Linked DNA regions of Homo sapiens: region 2 is linked to region 1. Evidence: fine-mapped expression QTL. Tissue or cell type: tibial artery. Region 1 holds a variant in brackets; the other region holds the start of a gene. All regions are shown on one strand. Distances are between the middles of the regions.

Region 1 (10,417 bases):
TTGGGGTTATGGGGGAACTGTGTTATCCCAAAATTCATATTGAAGTCCCAACCCCAGGACCTCAGAGTGGGCCCTTATTTGGAAATAAGGTCGTTGGAGATGTCATGAGTTAAGATGAGGTCATGCTGGGATAGGGAAGCCCCTAATTCAATCTGGCTGATGTCCTTATAAAGGGGGAGATTTGGACACAGGCACGGAGGGAGAGTGCCGTGGGAGGAAGAAGGCAGGGGTCGGGGTGTCACTTCCTCAAGCCAAGGAGCGGCCGCGGCTGCTGGCGCCACCAGGAGCTGGGTAGAGGATGGGACCATTCTTCCCTCGCAGCCTCGAGGGGAGCCAGACCTGCCCACACCCTGACCCGGACTCCCGGCCTCCAGAGCTGGGAGAGGAGATCTTTCTGTTTCTGTTGTTTAGGCCCCAGTCTGTGGCACTCTTTATGGCAGCCCTGGGGATCTCATATGTTCGGGGTACAGAGAGGAGGCTTGGCTGCCTGGGGCTCCCTCTCTCCACCTGGCCCCACCAACAGCTGCAGTTCTGGGTCCAGCACAGCCTCATGCTCCCACCCTGGAGGCCTGACACCGAGGGTCGGGGGAATGAGGCCAGTCCTGACCTGGCCTGTGGCAGGTGCAGCTGTCCCGGGGCTGCGATGTGAGGTCCCAGGGACATGAGGCGAGGGCGTGGCCTGCAGCTGGCAGAGGCCCCTCCACAGCGCAGAGCTGAGATGACCTCGTCCAGCGCCACAAGGCCTTGGCGCCATCCCACCGGGCTGAGGTGCGTGGGCAGCACTCACCATGCTCCCCCTGAAACCACAGTCACAGACCAACTGTGGTGGCCCAGCTGCCTGGCCTCCTCCAGGGAGTCTTTGGGATTCCCTGGGCGGGGTGAGGCACCCCTGGGACTCCCATGGGCCTCTGTGGCCCTCTAGTCCCCGCCAGCTTGTCAGTTTCCCGTTAGTTGAGGATTCCCCTCTGGGAGCCACCTGTACCCCAGACCTGGGCACAGGTGGGCTCTGCAGGATCCCTGGATCCCAGGCTCCCTCAAGCTTCAGCAAAGAGACCTCCCTCCCTCAGCCTGGTCCTTGGGCCCTCCAGGACCTGGGGGAGTGGCCAGTCCCCAGTAGGGAGAGGAGGAGAACACAGCTATCTGGGCGAATGTGACAGCGGTTTGCCAGCAAGCCCACCCTGCCCACAGCACCCCTGCCCCGCTTTGCTGGAAGAAGGTGTGGCCTGGGTGTGGGAGGAACCTCCACCCCCAGAAACCCAGCACAGCAGCACTGCCAGACTGTGAAGGGCCCCACGCGCGTCCGGGGCCCTCTCCGTGAGAATCAGAGGTCACACAAGCCACAGCTGTAAACGCTCATCAAAGAGCACGATAGGCCACTCGACGAGTTCTGCCGCTAGTGACAGGGAGAGAGGCCAGTTCCGCCCCGATCAACCACGCTGGCCTACACCACTTCCGCCCTGATCAACCACGCTGGCCGAGGCCAGTTCCGCCGCCGATCAACCATGCTGGCCGAGGCCAGTTCAGCTGCCGATTAACCATGCTGGCCGGGGCCAGTTCCGCTGCTGATTAACCATGCTGGCCGTAATTTCATGACCTGTCACTTAGGATTTTTGTCCCTCAAAATGATCAAAGTGCCACGAACACGTGGGATGACAGCATCATCTGCACCACCCCATGCCGTGGAGGAAGAGCTGGGTTTGGGCATCAGGAGGTCCAAGTCTCTGCTATCATCCCTGTGCTGGGGTGGTCACCCATCCCCCAGGGCCATGTCACCTCACTCAGGAAATTGAGGTGATCAATGACTTTAGCAGAAGCTGGTTTTAGAGCAAAGTCCTTTGCAGGGTCCTGAGGGATGAAGCAGGGGAGGAGGGAACAGCTCCTGTTCTGTGGCTGGAGGTCCCAGGAGCACCACACACCTGGGCTCCCAGCCACTTGGAGGACAGGCTGGAGGGGGAGGCACCCGGGGTGAGAAGGGCAGGTGAGGGGTGGCAGGCCACTAATGACCCCAGGGCAATCAGGATAAGGCTGACCATGGCTTAAGAGGTGCTGTCCCATGTGACAGTGTGGAGGGGTGGACTGTGGCTTATTCACTGGAGGCTTTGAGAAACAGCCAGCACATCCCTGATGTGAGGCCGGTGGGTCTCCCTCAGCCGCAGTGTCACAGAGATCTCCCTGCTCTGCTGGCTAAGAGATTTCACGCCAGCTCACCTTGGAACTTGGCAAAAGGCCCAAGACAATGCCCAGATTCAGCTGTGTGGCATCTCGATCTCACCCACTTGAGCGCTTCTCCACCCCAGCAGGCCCGCTGCCATCAAGGGCTTACCCTGTGGGCTGCCCACGCTGCTGTAACCAGTGACCACAAGCTCCGTGGTGTTGAGAAGCACATGTTTCTCCTCCCACGGCTGTGTAGGTCCGGAGTCCTACGGGCTCAGCCAGTCCCCCTGCTCCAGGTTTAACCAGGCCGGAATCAAGATGCCAGGGCCTGGCTGTGCTTTGGAGGCTCTTGGTGAGAACCTGCTTCTGGCCTGGTGCAGGGTGTGGCAGAATCCCGATGCTTGAGTTTGAATGGTGAAATTTATGCTCCAGCGTGGCTGGGCCATGGTACTCAGATATTTATTTAGTCAAACCATATTCTAAATGTTGCTGTGAAGGTAATTTTTTTTCTTAAAGATTAAGATTTAAATCAGGCCATCTGCTTCACCTGATTGGATGTGGGAGGGCCTCATCTGATCAGGTGAAGGCTTTCAGAGAAAAGGCCACACTCCCTATGGAGGAAGAGAGGATTTCGGCAGCCGACGGACTCGGACTGGAGCTTCAGCACAACTCTTCCCAGCCTGCCAGCCTGCCAGCCTGCCGTGCGGATTTTGGACTTGACAGCCCCTGCAACCACACACACACACAGACACACACACACACACACACATACACATACACACACACACGACCTCTGGGTTCGGTTTATCTGGAGATAAACCGAATGATACACCATCCTAGGACTGAGGTCCCTATCCCTTGCTGATGGCCAGTGGGGCTGTCCCTAGCCCTGCAAGGCTCCCTGAATCCCCTATCACACTGTCCTTACATCTTCCAACCAGCAGTGGCAGGTGGAGTCTTTCCCACTCTTTGGATCTCTCTGACTTCTCCTACACTGCCCTGACTCCAGCCTGATGGAGTTCCCTGTTTCTAATGCCTTCTGTGCTTAGACCAGGCCCTCCCAGATAATCCAGGACAATCTCCCTGTCTTAACATCTCTGATTAGTAACTGTAATTACATCTACAAAATCCTTCTTGCAAAATTACATTATATGCAATGTGACGTTCACAGGTACCAGGGTATGGATAAATCTGGGGGACCCAATTTGGCTGCCACATTTGCCCTTGGTGAGCTTTATCCCCTTCCTCCCCCTTCACACCCCCAGAGCTCTCAGCTCCTCCAGTGCATCTAAACCTGCTCTGGGGCCCCTCATCCCACCAAGATGTCAATAGCAGAAAATGAGCCCCTAGTGGGACTACCTTCTATCAGGCATCAGAGGCAGGCTTGGAGGGACTCATTCTCTGTGGTGGGACCTCAGGCAGGAGACGCTGGGTCACGGAGCACTGTGTGGATGTGCTCCACACCAGGCTGTGGCACAGGATGCTGCCAGTCCCCAGTGGTGAGGACCCTGCACCATCATGTTCAGCAGAAGACCAGCCATGCAGGCCCTGTAGTCACCACATTCATTTATTTTCCCCCTTCAGTCACCCTGTGTCAGTTAGCTACTGCTGCGTAACAAACAGCCCCAATTTAGCAATTTACAATAACCATTTGTTTAGCTCATTCAAGAGTGAAGGGCTGAGGCCATTTTTGTGATCCACTGTGTTCCTCAAGCCCTAGACCCACCCAGCTCAGCAGCCAAGGAGGCAGAACCTTACAAGTTGCAGAGTCTTACAAGTTGTGGCAGTGTTAGGATTAGTCTTCAGCTGCCTGGTGTTTGAGGCCATCCAAGCCTGGCTCCACTCCACTGCCACCTTCCCCCATCCAACTCCCCACCAAGGTGACATCTCATGGCTGTGCCAGACCACGTTCAAGCTACACCCTGCAGCACTGCCCTGGCCACAAGCAAAAGCCTCGCGCCCCTTCTGCTGGCCAGCCCATCCTGCAAGGCAGACTGGGAGCCTTCTCTGGGTGACCGTGGGCAAATCAATCAGCCTCTCTGAGGCTTGGTTTTGTCAACTGCAAAATCGAGGTGCTGATATGATGTGCCTCCCAGGACCATGTGCAGATAAGTGATGGGAGGGTGACCATATGCATTGCATAGCCTGCCCCAAAGGCACAGCCTCATTCTGGCAGGTTCTGGGGGCTGCTCCTCTGGTCAGCTTGCCCTGGGCCTGCAGAATCTTGACTTGAGCCCCCAGGGGTGGGGTGCGGGTGGGCTTCAGGTGGTGGGCCTGCCCCTGCAATGTTGGAGGGGCTCTTGAACCAAGAATGGTGTGATGCTTAGGTCACCTCTTGTTTGGGGCTGGAAACAGGTCCTGCTGTGGCCTGAGCTGCGGTGCAGGGACTCTCTCTGATGGGTTTCAGCTTGCCCCTCCTCGTGTTTGGGCTCCCCATCATCACCCTGGCTCACACGGTACAAAACTCCTCTGGAAGCCTGTGCAGGTCGGGGGACCCAGGTTGCAAGTGACAGAAACAAAACCAAACTGGCTGAAACAAAAAAGTGACTTTATTGGCTTATGTGATGGAAAAGCCTGGAGGTTAATCCCGGGCTCTGGGCGTGGTGGAATCCAGGAGCCGAACCCCGTTCTTGGGATGGAGTCTCCTCTTCTTGCAGTTCTGCTTTAGTCTGAGGGAGGCTTGTGCTTTCCGGTGGTAAGAACAGCCCGGCTCCTGCCCTCTAGGGTGAGGAGAAATGCCTTCTTTTCGGGAGTTCTGGATAAAGCCCCGCATGGAAGCTCCCCGAGTTGCCTGGGGCCGTGCACCAACCCTAGACCCCTCTGGCCTAGGGGATGGTCTGCTGTGAGTGCCGCTCCTGATGCGGCTGCCTTAAGAGCTGGGGAGGGATCTGTTCCTTGCAAGGCAAGGGACAGTGAGTGGGAAGAGGGTGGGCTCCCAAGGGGCTCTCTCCAAAAAGGTGAGGGTGCCGGGCAGGTGCCTGGGGCAGAGTCCAGGCAGGAGCAGAGGGCACACACCAGCAGAGCGAGTTGAGTCCAGGCGGGAGCAGAGGGCGCACACCAGCAGAGCGAGTCGAGTTCAGGTGGGAGCAGAGGGCGCCCACCAGCAGAGCGAGTCGAGTCCAGGCGGGAGCAGAGGGCGCACACCAGCAGAGTGAGCCCAGAGGGTTTAAAGAAGGGGCGGTCTCTACGGTATGGGTAGAGTCAGGGGAACTAGGAAAGGACAGAGCAGAACCTGGGGTAGGTAGCCGGGGAGCCAGGGCTGACCCACGCCTGAGGACAGGAGGGACGCAGGCAGACCCCAGAGGAGGGCCCGGGCCGCCCAGCAGTCCATGGCAGGGAGACGCAGGCGCTCCTGCCCAGGACCGGGAGAAGGGGTCTGGGGATAAAACCCCGATCTCTCTCGCCCCACCCCATTATTTTCTGTGAGCTTCCTCTTAGCCATACACGATGAGCAGCTGGTGGGCAGGGGCGCCCCTTGACACAGCCATACGGGATACGGGTAAGGCTGGGTGGGGGTGTCTGGGGGGCACACAGAGAATAACCAGCACACAGCCAAACCCGTGCTCTCTAACCCGTCAACAGAAACTTAACAATAAGTGTTCATAACCTATACGAAGGCAATCATAAAACACTCCTGAAGACACAAAAAAAACCCGAAATAGAACAGTTAGGATGTTCCAGCATCACCGAGATGTCAGCTCTCCCTAATTTAGGGTATAAATTTAATGCGATTCTAATAACAACCCCATGCGTTTCTCTTTCAAAGAGAGCTAGAACTGATACTAACGTTCACATGGAAAAATAAACAAGCCTTGCCAGGGAAGGGCGGGGTGAACGGGGCCAGCCCTATCAGACGCTAAAGCACGCAGTGGGGCCTCTTTAATGAGAACAGTGCC[A/T]AATGACACAAAAATACACAGGGCCGTGGGAGAGGAGGGACAGAGACAGGCCCCCCGCTGACGCCGTGTGTGAGGAGGGGGCGCTCCAGTCACTAGAACGGTCTTGGTATTTCACATAAAATGGTACTGGGACAAGTGGAAAACCATTTGCAAAAAAGATAAAATTAGATCCATTTCTCACACCATGCCCAAGAATAAACTCCAAGTAGATGGGAGTCCTAAATGCAAAAAACTGAAATATACAAATGCTAGAAGCAAACATTTGTGAATTCCTCTATAAGAGCAATGAAGAAGGGCTTTCTGTGACTACAAATCCAGGTGTAATCAAAGAAAATATTCATACAATTGCCAATGAAAGCAGCTTATGCAAGGAAAAAACTAAGCAAAACGAAACGACAAATGAACCAGGAGAAAATATTTGGAACTCGCTTCCTAGAGAAAAGGCTCATGTCTCATGTCTCTACTACACAAAGAACTTTTCAAAGTTAAGAAGCACAAATGCAAAGTGTAAGAGCTGCTCTGCTCTAATCCCACGACCTTCCCCACAGCGTCGCCGGCAGGGTGTGTCCTCAGACGTTTGATTTTTGCCAATGTGATGGCAGAGAAGTGTTTCCTTGGTGTGGCTTCAATTTGCATTTCTCTTCTGTGAGGAAGTTGAACACCTTTTCAGGCAGCTAAGGGCCGTTTTTACATCCCTGCTTGGGAACTGTGTGTTCACGCAGTTTGCTGATTTTTTCTATAAGACTTCTAGAAGATATTGATAAGTGAAAGAAAGCACCACGCCAAACAACACAGTAGTACGCTGCCTGTTGCACGGAGTGTAGATACGACTGCCTGTCTTTACAAGCAGCAGCACAGGAAGAATAAACAAGACAACAATTAGATTAGCTTCCTGCAGGGAGTGGGGGAGGGGCGGGGAGGGATTCTCCAGGGAGGCAGCCCAGCACACCTTTTCTGCACTTCTGACTTGCAGAAGCATATTCGTGTTCTACATATTAAATCAGGAGGTATGAGAAAGGGAAAAATAAAATGGACAGAAAACGGGAAAAATGGGCAAATTACATCTCAAATGAAGAACACAGCCACAGTGGAAACCAAAAAGAAATGAAGAACTAATCCAAGAAGCCATGAACACGGTGTCTGTCCGGCAGCCTCAGGCAAGGTCAGAAGGTAAGCGGGGAGTGCGAACGGGCCCAGGGCAGCTTCTCTGGTGCATGAGTTTTACTCTTGTAGTGGAATGAACATGGCCACACTAAAGGCATCACAGGCGCTGGCACAGCCGTGCACACCAGGTCACACATCCACGTCACTGGAAGAAGAGACAGACCATCAGGAACGTGGAGGGCCAGGAAGAACCCCTCAGGCAGGGACTGCACGTCAGCGTGAGTCATGCTCTCAGAAACACGCATGCGTGCGTCATGCTCTCAGAAACACGCATGCGTGCGTCATGCTCTCAGAAACACGCATGCGTGCGTCATGCTCTCAGAAACACGCATGCGTGCGTCATGCTCTCAGAAACACGCATGCGTGAGTCATGCTCTCAGAAACACGCATGCGTGAGTCATGCTCTCAGAAACACGCATGCGTGAGTCATGCTCTCAGAAACACGCATGCGTGAGTCATGCTCTCAGAAACACGCATGCGTGAGTCATGCTCTCAGAAACACGCATGCGTGAGTCATGCTCTCAGAAACACGCATGCGTGCGTGAGCACGTGCAGACGCGTGTCCTCGTGTGCCTGTCTTTATGTCCGTGTGTGTGTGTGTGTGTGTGTGTGTGTCTCTGGGTGATGTGCCTGTGTGCATCTCTTAGGTCTGTCGGCTGAAAGGCTTAAAACCCTTCTATCTTTGACACTGGCACCCAGACCTTGCCACTGGCTCCCAGACCTTGGTTGCTAATATATTACCCATTATATACCCAGACCTTGGTTGCTAATATATTACCCATTATATACCCAGACCTTGGTTGCTAATATATTACCCATTATATTACCAGGGCTCCTCAGAGAAGTGGCTGATTTTAGGGCTGGTGCAAGAAAAGTACAAAAATAGCCTGGAACATCATGTTATGCCAGAAAGTAACGAGGCACACACACAGGCAAACAAAGGTGGCATGTCACAGACTCCAGAGCCAGCACGGAGGGGCGCCTTCTGACCAAATTTGGAACCATTTGAGCACCAAAATATGGAAGTACAGCAATGAATCACAAATCCTTGAAAAAAAAATGGGGATCCAAAAGAACATACTATAGTAGCTGACGGATGATTGATGGCCAGAGAGATAGAGATGATTGATAGGTCGATGATGTGTAGAAGATAGACAGGTAGGTACATGATAGGTAGATAGACAGATGATAGATATGTGACAGGTAGGTAGATAGGTAGGTAGATGGATTACACAGATAGCTGATTGATAGACGACAGATTGAGAAATAGATGGATAGATAGATAGGTAGGTGACTGATGGATGATAGGTGAGATGGAAGGGCTGTTGTTTCAGCGGAAGGCCAGCTGCTGACTGGTGAATGTCGGGGAAGTGCCGGGTTCCAAAGCTGACGTTCTGGCCGGCGTCGTTCACGGGACATTCCTCCAGGGGGAGCTCTGGTGAGGAGCAGACCGTGTCCATGCTGGTAAAGCGTCCCCCGCCCCGACCCCCGAGAGTGCCCCTGAGCTGGAAGGAAACACTGAGCGGTTGTCCAGCAGATCACTCCGCAGCTCCTCCATCAGAAACATCACCAGCATCAGAAACAACACCAGCAGTGAGAGGCGAATGGACATCCTGTGCCCAAGAAAGACACACACTCTTTCTTGTGGCGCTGAAGCCAAAAATGTGCAGGCTCCGTCCAGTCCCAGGAACTGCCAGACGACCCCAAATGAGGACCCATCTATTAAAAAAAAGCCCCGTGTTCTTCCCAAATGTCAGCAGTGTACATGACCAAAACCATGGAAATGTTCCAGATGAAAGAGAACCACAGAGACAAGACGCATCAATGCAACACCTGACCCCAGAGTGGCCCTGTGCTGGAGGACAAGAGCCGTGAAGGACATTCTGGGGTCAGCTGGGAACACGGGAACACAGCTGGGAGAGAGGACTGTGTTAGGATGCGGCTGTGATGGCAAGCTCGCATCCTAACACAGTTAGGGATGATGTGGGAAGAGCTGTCTGTCTCTAGGGTCTCTTTAAAGGCAAGGAGGTGTGATACATGCTTGCAACTTAATACCGAATGGTTCAGAAAAGTCACCCGCAGCGCACCAGCAAGCAAGCCAATGAGAAAATAAATGGGGCAGGCTGGGCGCAGTCATTAAGCCCAGGTGAAAGGTCTATGCTGTTCTTGTACTATTTTTATTTTTGTAGTTTTTCTGTTGTTTGAAATTATGTCCAAACAAAATGTTGAAAAAAACAACACAACGAAAACCCTGCTCTCCACCAAAGTGTCTAAGTGAGGCACACAGACATCGCATGCAAGCAAATCGCTGCTGTTTGCAAAAATCTTGCAAAGCGGCCAACTCATGCCCCCTACCTAGTTACCCCTCCAGGAACCCTTGAGATAAATGATGCAAGAACACCCCACCATCATAATAATAAAGCTTGTACAGTAATAACAATTATAATCTGCTGTAATAACGAACCCCCGTGTGTGCACACCACTTCACAGTTTATAAAGCATTTACCAGACTCCATCAGATCGTCACGGCAGCGAAGTGAAATGTGTGCTCTATAAATGATGCCTCAATAAAGTTGTCAAGTTTTTAAAGGGGAGTCTTGATACCTGTTTTGCCGGGCTGTGGTGAGGATGAAGTGAAATCAGAAAAGGACAAAGCTTTGGGAATTCTGAAGCAGCTTCTCAAACGGTGGTCTCTCGGCCCACCTGGATGGCAGTCCCCCAGGGAGCCTGTTGCTGTGCAGATTCCTGGGGGCTGTCCCCAAAGCTCCAGAGAGTCTGGGACCCTCCCTTGTAGCTCCCCTGGGGAAGCCAGACCAGAGTGCAGCTGCAGAAAGGGCAGGCAGAGGCAGGAGCCCAGCCCTGGTGCCTGGTGCCCTGGGTGGCTGGGCCCAGAGCTCAGAGCACTGCCCAGGGAGCATGGTGCCTCAAACTGAGCCCCGCCCTGGGTAGGGGGAGCTGCCCACACTGACCCTTCGCAGACTTTCTCCAGTGGGCGAGTGGAGTGGGCAGGCTGTGGCCCCTCATATCCCCTGGATGCCCGCCCGGTGGAGCTCGGCTATAGGCGATCCCTAACAAGCGCTCCAGGGCCCTTGCATTCCAGGTCGAGCTGGGCGGGGTGGCTGTGCTATCAGCGAGCCCCCAGAAGCTCGCTCAGAGGGAGTGCATTTGAGCCAGCACCCAGTTGCCACCTGAGATGCAGAAGG
Region 2 (10,417 bases), 23 kb after region 1:
AGGCCACAGGTGCCGCATATGTGTGTACACATCCATATATGCGAAGCCATGTGTGCACATGCATGACTGGTGTCATGCATAGGGACAGATGTGTGCAGCACAGGCATACACACGTGTGTGCAATGTGCATGGATTCGTGTTATCTGCACAGGGAAGGCTGTGCGTGCCCGCAGTATGCACAGGTGTGTGCACAGCATGGGTGCATCATTTCTACATATGCCAGTGTGATACATATGCATGTGTAGACATACGTGTGCAAAAAGCACGTGTGTATGATAGTGCATATGTATATATGCACCTGCATGTGAAGAGTACACGGGCATGTGTATGCACACGCAGGCATGTGTGCATGTGTGGGAACATGTATGTGTGCATACATGTGTGTATATTCTGTAGGCATGGATGCACTGTAAATCCACATGGTATATGTAGACAGTGTGTGTGTGGATGTGTGCATGCATGTGTGTGTGAAGGCATGCAAGTGTGCATGAATAGGTTGCATGCTTGCATGCATGTGTGGATATGTGTATGTATGGGTGTTCATGCTTGCATGAACACACGTGTATTCATGATATGTATATTCATGTGTGTGCATGGATCTATGTGTGCACAAGGATGTGTGTGGATACATATATGTGTGTGGACACTGTACATCTGCGTATGTGCATGCATGCCTGCATGTGCAGGGAGGGGGCTCAAGGAGCCAAACTCCCCTCCACCCGAGCTGAGGCTGCTCACGAAGCCTAGAGCGCGGCATCCCAGGCAGGCACCCAGCTCTCTCCGGCACAGCAGCCAGGGCCCAATGTCCCATGGCTGTATGGCCCTGCTGGACCAACCCTGTCCTCCTAGGCCCCACGCATCATGGGTGAGATACAGGCAGGTTCGCCTCTGCAGCTCCAGGACGTGCCACTTCTAGGTTCTCAGTTCTAGGAAACACCTGTAGGTTTCCCCTCTGAAATATGCCCACTTCTGCCATGTACTCCCCTGCACACGTACACACAGACAGCCCCCACAACCCCCGCCAGTGCAGCCTGACTCCCCCAGCACCCTCCTTCCTCGCCCCTCCTGGTCGTGCCAGCTCGCGTCGTGCCTCGTCAGGACAGGAAGTCTTGCTGGGTACGTGCTGTTCTGCTTGTTACGGACAATCCGGAGCAGTTCCTCAAGCCTAATTTCAAGGTCTGGGGGAAGAGTCCTCTCCAGCTTCCTTGCAAACAGCTGCGGTCCCGGGCCCTCCCACCACAGGCAGGCCTGCGTGCAATGCAACCCCTATGCATGGCCCAGGGCTTCGCTCCTCCTAATGACTCCAGGCCCCAGCTTTTTGCCCTTGGCTCCATCCAGGCCCTGGAGTGGACCCTTCTGACCCCTCCCTGGTCATGCCAGGAGGTGTTGCCAGCAGCATGTCAGCCTGTTGGCTGCCATCCCCAAGGGCCTGGGCCGCTCACTGGCCAGGCACTCCAGATGCCCTCAGCCTGGCCTGTGAGTGGCCCCTGCCTTCAGCCCTCCTGGGCAGTGGGAGGCTCATCTGGCTCAGGGCCCCAGGTGCTCCGTGTCCTTTTCCCTCCAAATTCCCGTGCCTGGGCTGCCATCTCTTGGGAACATAGGAGCCAGGATCCTAGATAGATCCCCATGCCCCTGCGCATCCCCCAAAGCACTTCTCAAAAAGAGAGCCCTTCAGGATGGGGGTGGGAGGCACGCTGATGCCGAGGGAGAGAGACCTTCTCCAAAGCCTGCATCTGGCCCCTGCCACTGCTCTTTCCTAGTCCTCCTGTCTCCCCACGCCCCCAGTACAAAGCCCACTCCCACTGGAAGAAGGACAGCCTACAGAGGCCTCCCCCTTCCTCATAACACCTCCTCACTCTCTAAGCACAGTTTGGTCACCTCCTCCAGGAAGGCTTCCTTGACAACCCCGCTCCCAGGCTGGGGGAGGAGCCCCAGGGCACTGATGGTTGTCAGCGCATTCACCTCAGTGGGTGGCCCCATCCACCCACAGATGGTGAGCACCTCAACTGAGGCCAGGCCCCCCTCACTCTCTGCCATCGCAGAGGGCTCAATAGAGACAAGGGCTCCAGCGGGCCGACCATGAAGGAAGCAGGTGTGTGTGGGCTTCCCTGAAAAATGCACCTCCAGGTGCCCTGGACAGGTGGCACCTTTTAGGCAACCAGAACCAGGAGGGCCTTTAGTAAGGATGGTGACCCTCCACCATCCCCAGGTCACACACCTCCCACAGGACAGCCATGGCCTGTTGCCTCCCCGAAGGGCATATGTGCCCTAGACTAGCACAGGACTGGCACAGAAGGCTTTGGCTCCAACGTGCGCCCCTGCTTGGCAGGCCCATCATCTGAAATATTTGCTTTCTGCCGGGCCCTGGCTCGGCCTCCACACCCCCAATGCAGGCCCTGCTGGTGACAAACATGGTGAAGAACGAAGCCGTAGCTCCTGGCAGTGTCTCTGCGGAGACAGACATGCTCCCCAGTAGGGCTGAGCAGCAGAGAACACGACAGGCTCTGAGGCTAAAGCTGGCGCCCTTCAGGAGCTCAGAGAGAAGCTGCCCCAGGCCACGGGCATGGATAGGCATCCCGGGGGTAGGGCAGTCACTCCAGCCGCTCTTCATGATGACCTCCCGGGCACTCAGAAGCGCCCCTTCCCCGCCGGTTCTAGCCACAGGATGGACAGACCTTCCCTCCCTCTCTCCTGCGGGCCCATGCAGGGAGAGGCCAGCCAGCTGGGGTTCGTTTCTGGACGTTTGGGAGAAGGGTCGTCCCTTCGGTCCTAGCAGAGAAACGTCAGGCCTGAGAACTCCAGCTCTCCTCCTGGATCACCTCGTCCCTGGAAGTCCCTCTCCCACAGACCCCAGGCTGCCTGGAGGCAGAAGCCAGCACCCAACATGGGCCACAGAGTGGCAGTGCACGTGGCAGTGCACATCTGCAGAATGGAGGTGCGCGGACGGGGGCGAGGGTGCACGGGGGCTACCTCAACGGCCGCTCTCCCCTGAGCCCACCCTTGCAAAAAGCTCCATCATCCAGGCAGCTCCGTTCTGGGTGTTTGTCAGAGGTGGTGACTTTGAACACCTCTCCATCCTTTAAAAGCAGGGCCTGAGAGCCTAAGGATTAAACTTCAATCACTGCTAACATGGGTGCAGAGCTTGGGAGCTTGCCCAGGGCTTCCACAGACACCGCCGTTAGTTATGATTCATGCTCCAGCAGCGCTGGGAAGTGGGCCGAGGGAACTGAGGCCGGGGTGGGTGCGGAGGTGGCTCTGACGGGGAGCGCCGATCCAGGATCTGGTCCGGACCCTGAGCTCGGCAGGACCTGTGCGCACGCAGGTAGCGTCGCGTCCTCCCCCAGGCTGCGAGAGGTTGCTCTGCCATCAGGCCATGGACCCCGAGCCGCCCGTGCTGCGCGCGCGCGTGTGCGCGCCCCCGCCTGCGCCCATGCCTGCGCCGGGGGAGGCGAAGGAGGCTCCAGTCTTAGAAAGAGCAGCTTCTGGAACTCACCACCCAGGCCGGCCGCCGCTCGGCCCCGTCCCGCAGGCTGCAGGCGGCCCTGGAGGGGGCGCCCTCGCCGAGCGCGCGCCCCGCGCCGCCGCCCCGGACTCCTCCCCGGCGCCGCGCGGGCAGGTTCGACCAGGCGGCCGCGGGCTCCGGTTCCCGGCCAGCTCCCCAGGGCCCGCGGCCCGCCCCGCCCCGCGCGCCCGCCCCGCTGCGCAACTCGACCCAAGTTGGAAGCCGATCGCAGGCGGCCGCACTCGCGCCCAGCGCAGGGCGGCGGCGGCGGCGGCGGCGCAGCTCCGGCGAGCGAGGCGGCGGCCGCACGGCCAAGCGTGGACCGCGGGGGGCGCCCGCGCCCGGGAGCAGCCGGAGGACTCGCGGCGGCGCCGGCGCCCCGCCCGGGAAAGTAAAGTTGGAGACGGAGGGAGCGCGCGGGCGCGGGGGCCCGGAGGAGCGGCGGCCGGCGCCCCGGCGCGCCGAGCCCTAGCCGGCCGGATGGGAGGCGGAGCGCCCGGGCCGCCGCCGCCTGTCGCCTGCGCCCCGGCTGGGCTCCGGGACCGCGGGGCCGCTCAGGCACGCCCGCTCGGGCGCCGCGTCGCCGTGGGCTCGACGCCGGGGCGCTCCCCGTGAGCCGGGCCGAGGGCGGGGCCGCGCGAGGACCCCGGGACCTGCCCCCCTCCCCCCGCAGCCGCGTCGCCGCTCGCTCCGGGCGCCTCCTGCTCTGCACTTACACGCTCGGCAGCTGCGGGGAGCCCGGCAGCCACGCTCTCCGGCGCGCCGCCCGCGGAGCCACCACGGCCGAGGGCCGGCTGCTGGGCGCCGCGGTCCCCGGCGGGCGCGCCCGAGCAGCAGGCGGCGATGCGGGCGCCGACCCCGGCTGGGGGGCGCCCGAGCTGCCGCGGCTGCGCCCCGGCTCCAGGAGGGACGGCGTAGCTCGCGGGAGGACCATGGCGTCCCCGGCGCTGGCGGCGGCGCTGGCGGTGGCGGCAGCGGCGGGCCCCAATGCGAGCGGCGCGGGCGAGAGGGGCAGCGGCGGGGTTGCCAATGCCTCGGGGGCTTCCTGGGGGCCGCCGCGCGGCCAGTACTCGGCGGGCGCGGTGGCAGGGCTGGCTGCCGTGGTGGGCTTCCTCATCGTCTTCACCGTGGTGGGCAACGTGCTGGTGGTGATCGCCGTGCTGACCAGCCGGGCGCTGCGCGCGCCACAGAACCTCTTCCTGGTGTCGCTGGCCTCGGCCGACATCCTGGTGGCCACGCTGGTCATGCCCTTCTCGTTGGCCAACGAGCTCATGGCCTACTGGTACTTCGGGCAGGTGTGGTGCGGCGTGTACCTGGCGCTCGATGTGCTGTTTTGCACCTCGTCGATCGTGCATCTGTGTGCCATCAGCCTGGACCGCTACTGGTCGGTGACGCAGGCCGTCGAGTACAACCTGAAGCGCACACCACGCCGCGTCAAGGCCACCATCGTGGCCGTGTGGCTCATCTCGGCCGTCATCTCCTTCCCGCCGCTGGTCTCGCTCTACCGCCAGCCCGACGGCGCCGCCTACCCGCAGTGCGGCCTCAACGACGAGACCTGGTACATCCTGTCCTCCTGCATCGGCTCCTTCTTCGCGCCCTGCCTCATCATGGGCCTGGTCTACGCGCGCATCTACCGAGTGGCCAAGCTGCGCACGCGCACGCTCAGCGAGAAGCGCGCCCCCGTGGGCCCCGACGGTGCGTCCCCGACTACCGAAAACGGGCTGGGCGCGGCGGCAGGCGCAGGCGAGAACGGGCACTGCGCGCCCCCGCCCGCCGACGTGGAGCCGGACGAGAGCAGCGCAGCGGCCGAGAGGCGGCGGCGCCGGGGCGCGTTGCGGCGGGGCGGGCGGCGGCGAGCGGGCGCGGAGGGGGGCGCGGGCGGTGCGGACGGGCAGGGGGCGGGGCCGGGGGCGGCTGAGTCGGGGGCGCTGACCGCCTCCAGGTCCCCGGGGCCCGGTGGCCGCCTGTCGCGCGCCAGCTCGCGCTCCGTCGAGTTCTTCCTGTCGCGCCGGCGCCGGGCGCGCAGCAGCGTGTGCCGCCGCAAGGTGGCCCAGGCGCGCGAGAAGCGCTTCACCTTTGTGCTGGCTGTGGTCATGGGCGTGTTCGTGCTCTGCTGGTTCCCCTTCTTCTTCAGCTACAGCCTGTACGGCATCTGCCGCGAGGCCTGCCAGGTGCCCGGCCCGCTCTTCAAGTTCTTCTTCTGGATCGGCTACTGCAACAGCTCGCTCAACCCGGTCATCTACACGGTCTTCAACCAGGATTTCCGGCGATCCTTTAAGCACATCCTCTTCCGACGGAGGAGAAGGGGCTTCAGGCAGTGACTCGCACCCGTCTGGGAATCCTGGACAGCTCCGCGCTCGGGGCTGGGCAGAAGGGGCGGCCCGGACGGGGGAGCTTTCCCAGAGACCCGGGGATGGATTGGCCTCCAGGGCGCAGGGGAGGGTGCGGCAGGGCAGGAGCTTGGCAGAGAGATAGCCGGGCTCCAGGGAGTGGGGAGGAGAGAGGGGGAGACCCCTTTGCCTTCCCCCCTCAGCAAGGGGCTGCTTCTGGGGCTCCCTGCCTGGATCCAGCTCTGGGAGCCCTGCCGAGGTGTGGCTGTGAGGTCAGGGTTTTAGAGAGCAGTGGCAGAGGTAGCCCCCTAAATGGGCAAGCAAGGAGCCCCCCAAAGACACTACCACTCCCCATCCCCGTCTGACCAAGGGCTGACTTCTCCAGGACCTAGTCGGGGGGTGGCTGCCAGGGGGCAAGGAGAAAGCACCGACAATCTTTGATTACTGAAAGTATTTAAATGTTTGCCAAAAACAACAGCCAAAACAACCAAACTATTTTCTAAATAAACCTTTGTAATCTAATGTTGGGTGCCGCAGTCAGTCCTTGAGCTTGGGGGCTGGGGGTATCTTCCAGACCCTCACCCTGCCTGACACCCTCCCCCATCTCCCCCACCCCACAATGCTGGACGGAGGGCACCCTGGGCCTCCGGGTTACAACTTCCTTCTTGCATGAGAAGGAGGGGTCTTGCTTTTTCTCAAGCTAACCCTTTATGTACATGGAAAATATGTACTCAAAATTCCTGTGCTGAGAGTAGCGAAGAGGTGAAAGGAGCCTAGAACCCCCAAGTTGACCCCAAGTTTAGATTCTGGGGGACTGTCTTCCCTGCATTCCCATCCCTGCCCCCTGCCCTTCCCCACTCTGATATTCAGGGCCTCCGGTGGAAAGAGGTGGGGCTCTTCCAGTCCAAGACTGAGAGTAGCTTTGAGCTAGTCCTCCTGGCTCTGAACATTTTGTGGGCGTGGCTCTTGGGTGGAGAGAGGGTGGGCGTGAGGCCGGCAAGCCCCCACACCATCACTCTTAGGCCAGAGGCCTGGCCAGAGCCAGGTTGAACAACAGGCACTTTCTTATTTCCGAAACAAACTGAAAGTCATTGAGGCCCCAGAGCAGTGGAGTGGAACAAACCAGCAATGTCTGGAGAGGGGCCTGGGGCCGGCCTGTTTCCTGTGGTGCCCCCAGGGTCTTCCCAGTGCAGCCCTGCCTTTCCCCCTTGCTCCACCGTCAGGCCCAGCAGGTGTCCACACTGTTCACACTGCTGCTTGAGGAAGGGCAGTGGAAAGTGGGGGACAGAATACCAAGGTGGGCTTCCTGGTGCTGGGCCTTCATGGTGTAGGGACCACTCAGACTCAGCCGTGTCACAGGGCCTGGAAGTTGCCAGGATGGCTGGAGGGGAGGGGCAAAAGCGGGACCTGCGCCTGGCAGGAGCTGGGCAGGGGTCCCCCCAACACACACGCACAGACAGCTCGGTAGGCGTGTGGGGGCTGTGTCAGGCCTCCTGCTTGTGACCATCCATTCCCCATTCCCGTCCCCCTTCCCATCCCTGGGAGGCCCCCCTGGGCTTCCCTATGTGTACCCTCCCCTGCCAGACCCTGCCTGCTGAGCCCAGCCCAGATCCATCCTGGATACCCACCTCTCTCTTTGGCATGGGGGGCCAGGGTCTGCCTGGGGAGGGGTCAGCCCTGGGTCCTGTGTTCTTCTGCAAGCCCCCGTCCGCGAAGTCAGGTTCCAGAGCAGGGGGACCTGACTTGCCAGAGTTGGCCCTTGGAGAACCCCCTCGCCGCAGCTGCCTGGCTTCCACCCCAGATGATGGGTCTTCAGGATACCCCAGCTGGGAAGAGCTCTCCCAGCCGTGTCCACAGCTGGCACATGTGCTAATGCTCACACCTGCTGTGTGCTAGTCTCAGACACAGGTGGGGAGATACAGACAGCAGTGGGGGCAGGGGAGGGGTGGAGAACATGGCCAGTCAAGGCCGATGAGGACATCCCTGACCTCCCCCGACCAGGCCTGGGCAGGGAGTCCTGAACTGTTGGCCCAGCTTGTCCTGGAGCTGTTGTACTGGCTCAGACAAATCCCTGCTCTCTGGGCCTCGGTGCCCCACCTGGGAAGTGGAGGGGGTCCTGGGAGCCCTCTTGGGCCCTGCCAGGCCTGCCAATCTGTTGGGCAATCTATCCCCTGAGCCTGGGACCACAGGAGACCCCACCTCAGAGACTCCATGGCTGACATCGCACCCAGGGACACTCTGAGGGCAGGCCTTGGGCTGCGAGAGAATCACTGTACACACATGAAAAAGACTCCAGAGCTCAGGATTTCTGCTCCAGAATCTGCATCTTACCAAGCCGGCAGGAGGGGTCCAAAACTCACAACTGCAAGACGGGAGGGCAGACCCCCAACCCCTCACCTGCCAGCACTCAAGACCCCAAGTCCCGCCCAGGGCACCCTTCCCTTGAGAGCACCAGCATTTCATGGGATAACTCGTACATTTCATGGGACTCAGAGAGGTGGATTAACCTGCCTGAGGTCACACAGCTGGTGATAAGACCCAACAGGGCCCAGGTTTCCTGGCCCCAAATTCAACCAGATAACAAGTATTTCTTGAGTATCTCCACCATTTCCTACTGCCTCCTGGGAGGTCTTCAGGAATGGGCAACTTCCCACAGCTGAGGGCAGACCCCACGTGGAGGCACAGCATGATGAGCAAGGGTTTGGAGGTAGGAGGTGCAAGTGTGTTTTAGGAAATGGGGTGCCAGCATGGGGAGGGGGAGACAATGCAGACAGGAGGCTGGACAGAGGGGCCGTGTGCCAGGCTGCAGGGGAGAAGCTGGTGGGAGGGTGCTTGGACAGAGTGTCAGGTTTTGATCTGACCCCCTGGGGGCTGTGAGGTCTGCAGAGGAAATGCAACCTCCCAGGGCTGGAGCCTGCCCTGTCACCTGCTCAGCAGTGTGGCCGACTGAGCATGTCACCTCTGAACTGCAGATCCTCCTCCCTGCAAGGGGATAACCACAGCCCCCCCACACCCAGGGATCCTGGGAGATTAACTTCGAGGATACAGCAGGGCACGCAGCCTGGTACACGCTCGGGGAAGAATGTCAGCAAACCTTCCTCCTCTTCCCGTCCTGACCCTGCCAGTCACACCCTCCAGGGCTATGGCCGGGACTGCAGCCGGCAGATGTTCACCACTCGATCTTGGTTGCCGCCTGGAGAGACTTTCTTTTCAGCTGGATAAACAGAGACAGAAACCTGGCTTCTCACCCTGCCTGCTGCAGGGACACGTGTCACCTTGCTCTGAGTCCTGGTGTCTTCATCCATGAAGGGGGCACTGACACCCACCCCGAGGGTAAGATGAGCCCCGAGTGCCTCCAAACCCAGCCCAGGAACCACCCGCCAAGGGGACTTCTCAACGCCCAGAGCAGGGCCCTCCCCTCTGCCGACCTGTCCACCACGGCCCCTGACTTCCTGAGTGGCTCTCCTCTCCACGGACGAGGCCTGGGCCTGCCTCACTTCTTCATGCCGACTTCATGGATCCAGAGTGGCCTGATGTCAACCCCCATATGTGGTTGTGGAAACTGAGGCCTAGAGGTGACTGTGTGGCCAGGGACCCCTAGGGGTGAGGGGGCAGAGCAAACTGTGGACTCAGAAAGGTCCCTCTGCAGAGAGCCTGGGCTCTGATCTCACCCCGTCCCAAGCAAGCCACAGAGCAGCGTTTTCCACGACCGGTTTCCTGGGCAGAGCTCCCCGTTGGGCTCTTGGGAGATTTCAGGCAAAATAAAATAAAGCAGCCACTACCGACGGAGGAGGGCTTGCCCTGTGTGGAGGGTGCTGGCTCGAACGCCGTCCTGCTCAGGGTTCCTGTGTACCTGGCCCAAGCCTGTCACAGATGCAGCTCCTACCAGATATACATAGACATGCATATGTTTTCATTAACTCCTGTATTTTAATCCTATGGCTGTTGGTAGGAAAGGAGGGAAAAGAAAGAATCCAAATATTCCATTGCAGCTCAGTATGGAATTCAAAAGGAAATATTCCTTGGTGCAGGCAGCAATGTTAGTACTTTATAGAAGCAGCTCCAGGCTTTGGATCCTGCCCCCGACTCCGGGGGTGGGGGCTGGAGGGTGGGGGAAACACGTTGCCGTGGCACTTGCTGGCGAGGAAGCCGCCCTTCCCGGCTGTGCTGGCAGCCGGCTGTATTTTTCTATCACATCCATCGGCAGGGCTCAAATATTCCGTGCCGTGTCGGATCAAAACACACGGCGCCTGCAGGCCCATCTCGAGGCTGGTTGGACAGCCACGGCCCCTCCATGTCCCCACTCCCGTCAGCCCGTGGTGGCCCCCACGTGCAAGGGGTGGGGGAGGAGCAGCCCTGTGCGGAGGGCCCTGTGCGGAGTGCCACAGGTACCCCTTTATGCAGGTGCCTCCACCGTCCCTGGGCAGGCATGGGCAGCCTCCGCTACGTGCCAGGGGGGATCTGAGGGTCATGACATGGATGTGAGATGGGGGCTGACAAAGATAGGAGAGTCCCTAGAGCTGAGGAGCAGAGGAGGGAGATGCCTAAGACTCCAAGGCCCAGGGGAAGCTTTTCCATCTTGAGG

Alleles and levels. Alleles are on the strand shown, and positions count from the first base shown. SD is a standard deviation of normalised expression in the study named.
For the expression in tibial artery of the gene that starts at base 4,213 in region 2, T is the low allele of the variant in region 1 and A is the other (small effect, 0.26 SD a copy in GTEx).

What was found. PIP is the estimated chance that this variant, and not a neighbour inherited with it, causes the effect.
Region 2: ADRA2C starts here. The variant in region 1 is fine-mapped to the expression of ADRA2C in tibial artery (GTEx, PIP above 0.99).

What each region holds. Positions count from the first base shown.
Region 1 is chr4:3,739,073-3,749,489 of GRCh38, forward strand. No RefSeq gene overlaps it. Among named protein-coding and RNA genes, the nearest start is that of ADRA2C, 22 kb to the right of the region's middle. RefSeq lists enhancers at 6,835-8,034, 7,005-7,530, 10,134-10,417 and a silencer at 8,054-8,224. The variant A/T (reference allele first, on the strand shown) is at 6,051.
Region 2 is chr4:3,762,173-3,772,589 of GRCh38, forward strand. ADRA2C (adrenoceptor alpha 2C) reads left to right here and starts at 4,213. Exons shown (of 1, transcript NM_000683.4): 1 at 4,213-6,354. The coding sequence starts at 4,435. The coding sequence ends at 5,823. RefSeq lists enhancers at 5,918-6,435, 6,628-7,313, 8,000-8,685, 8,686-9,371.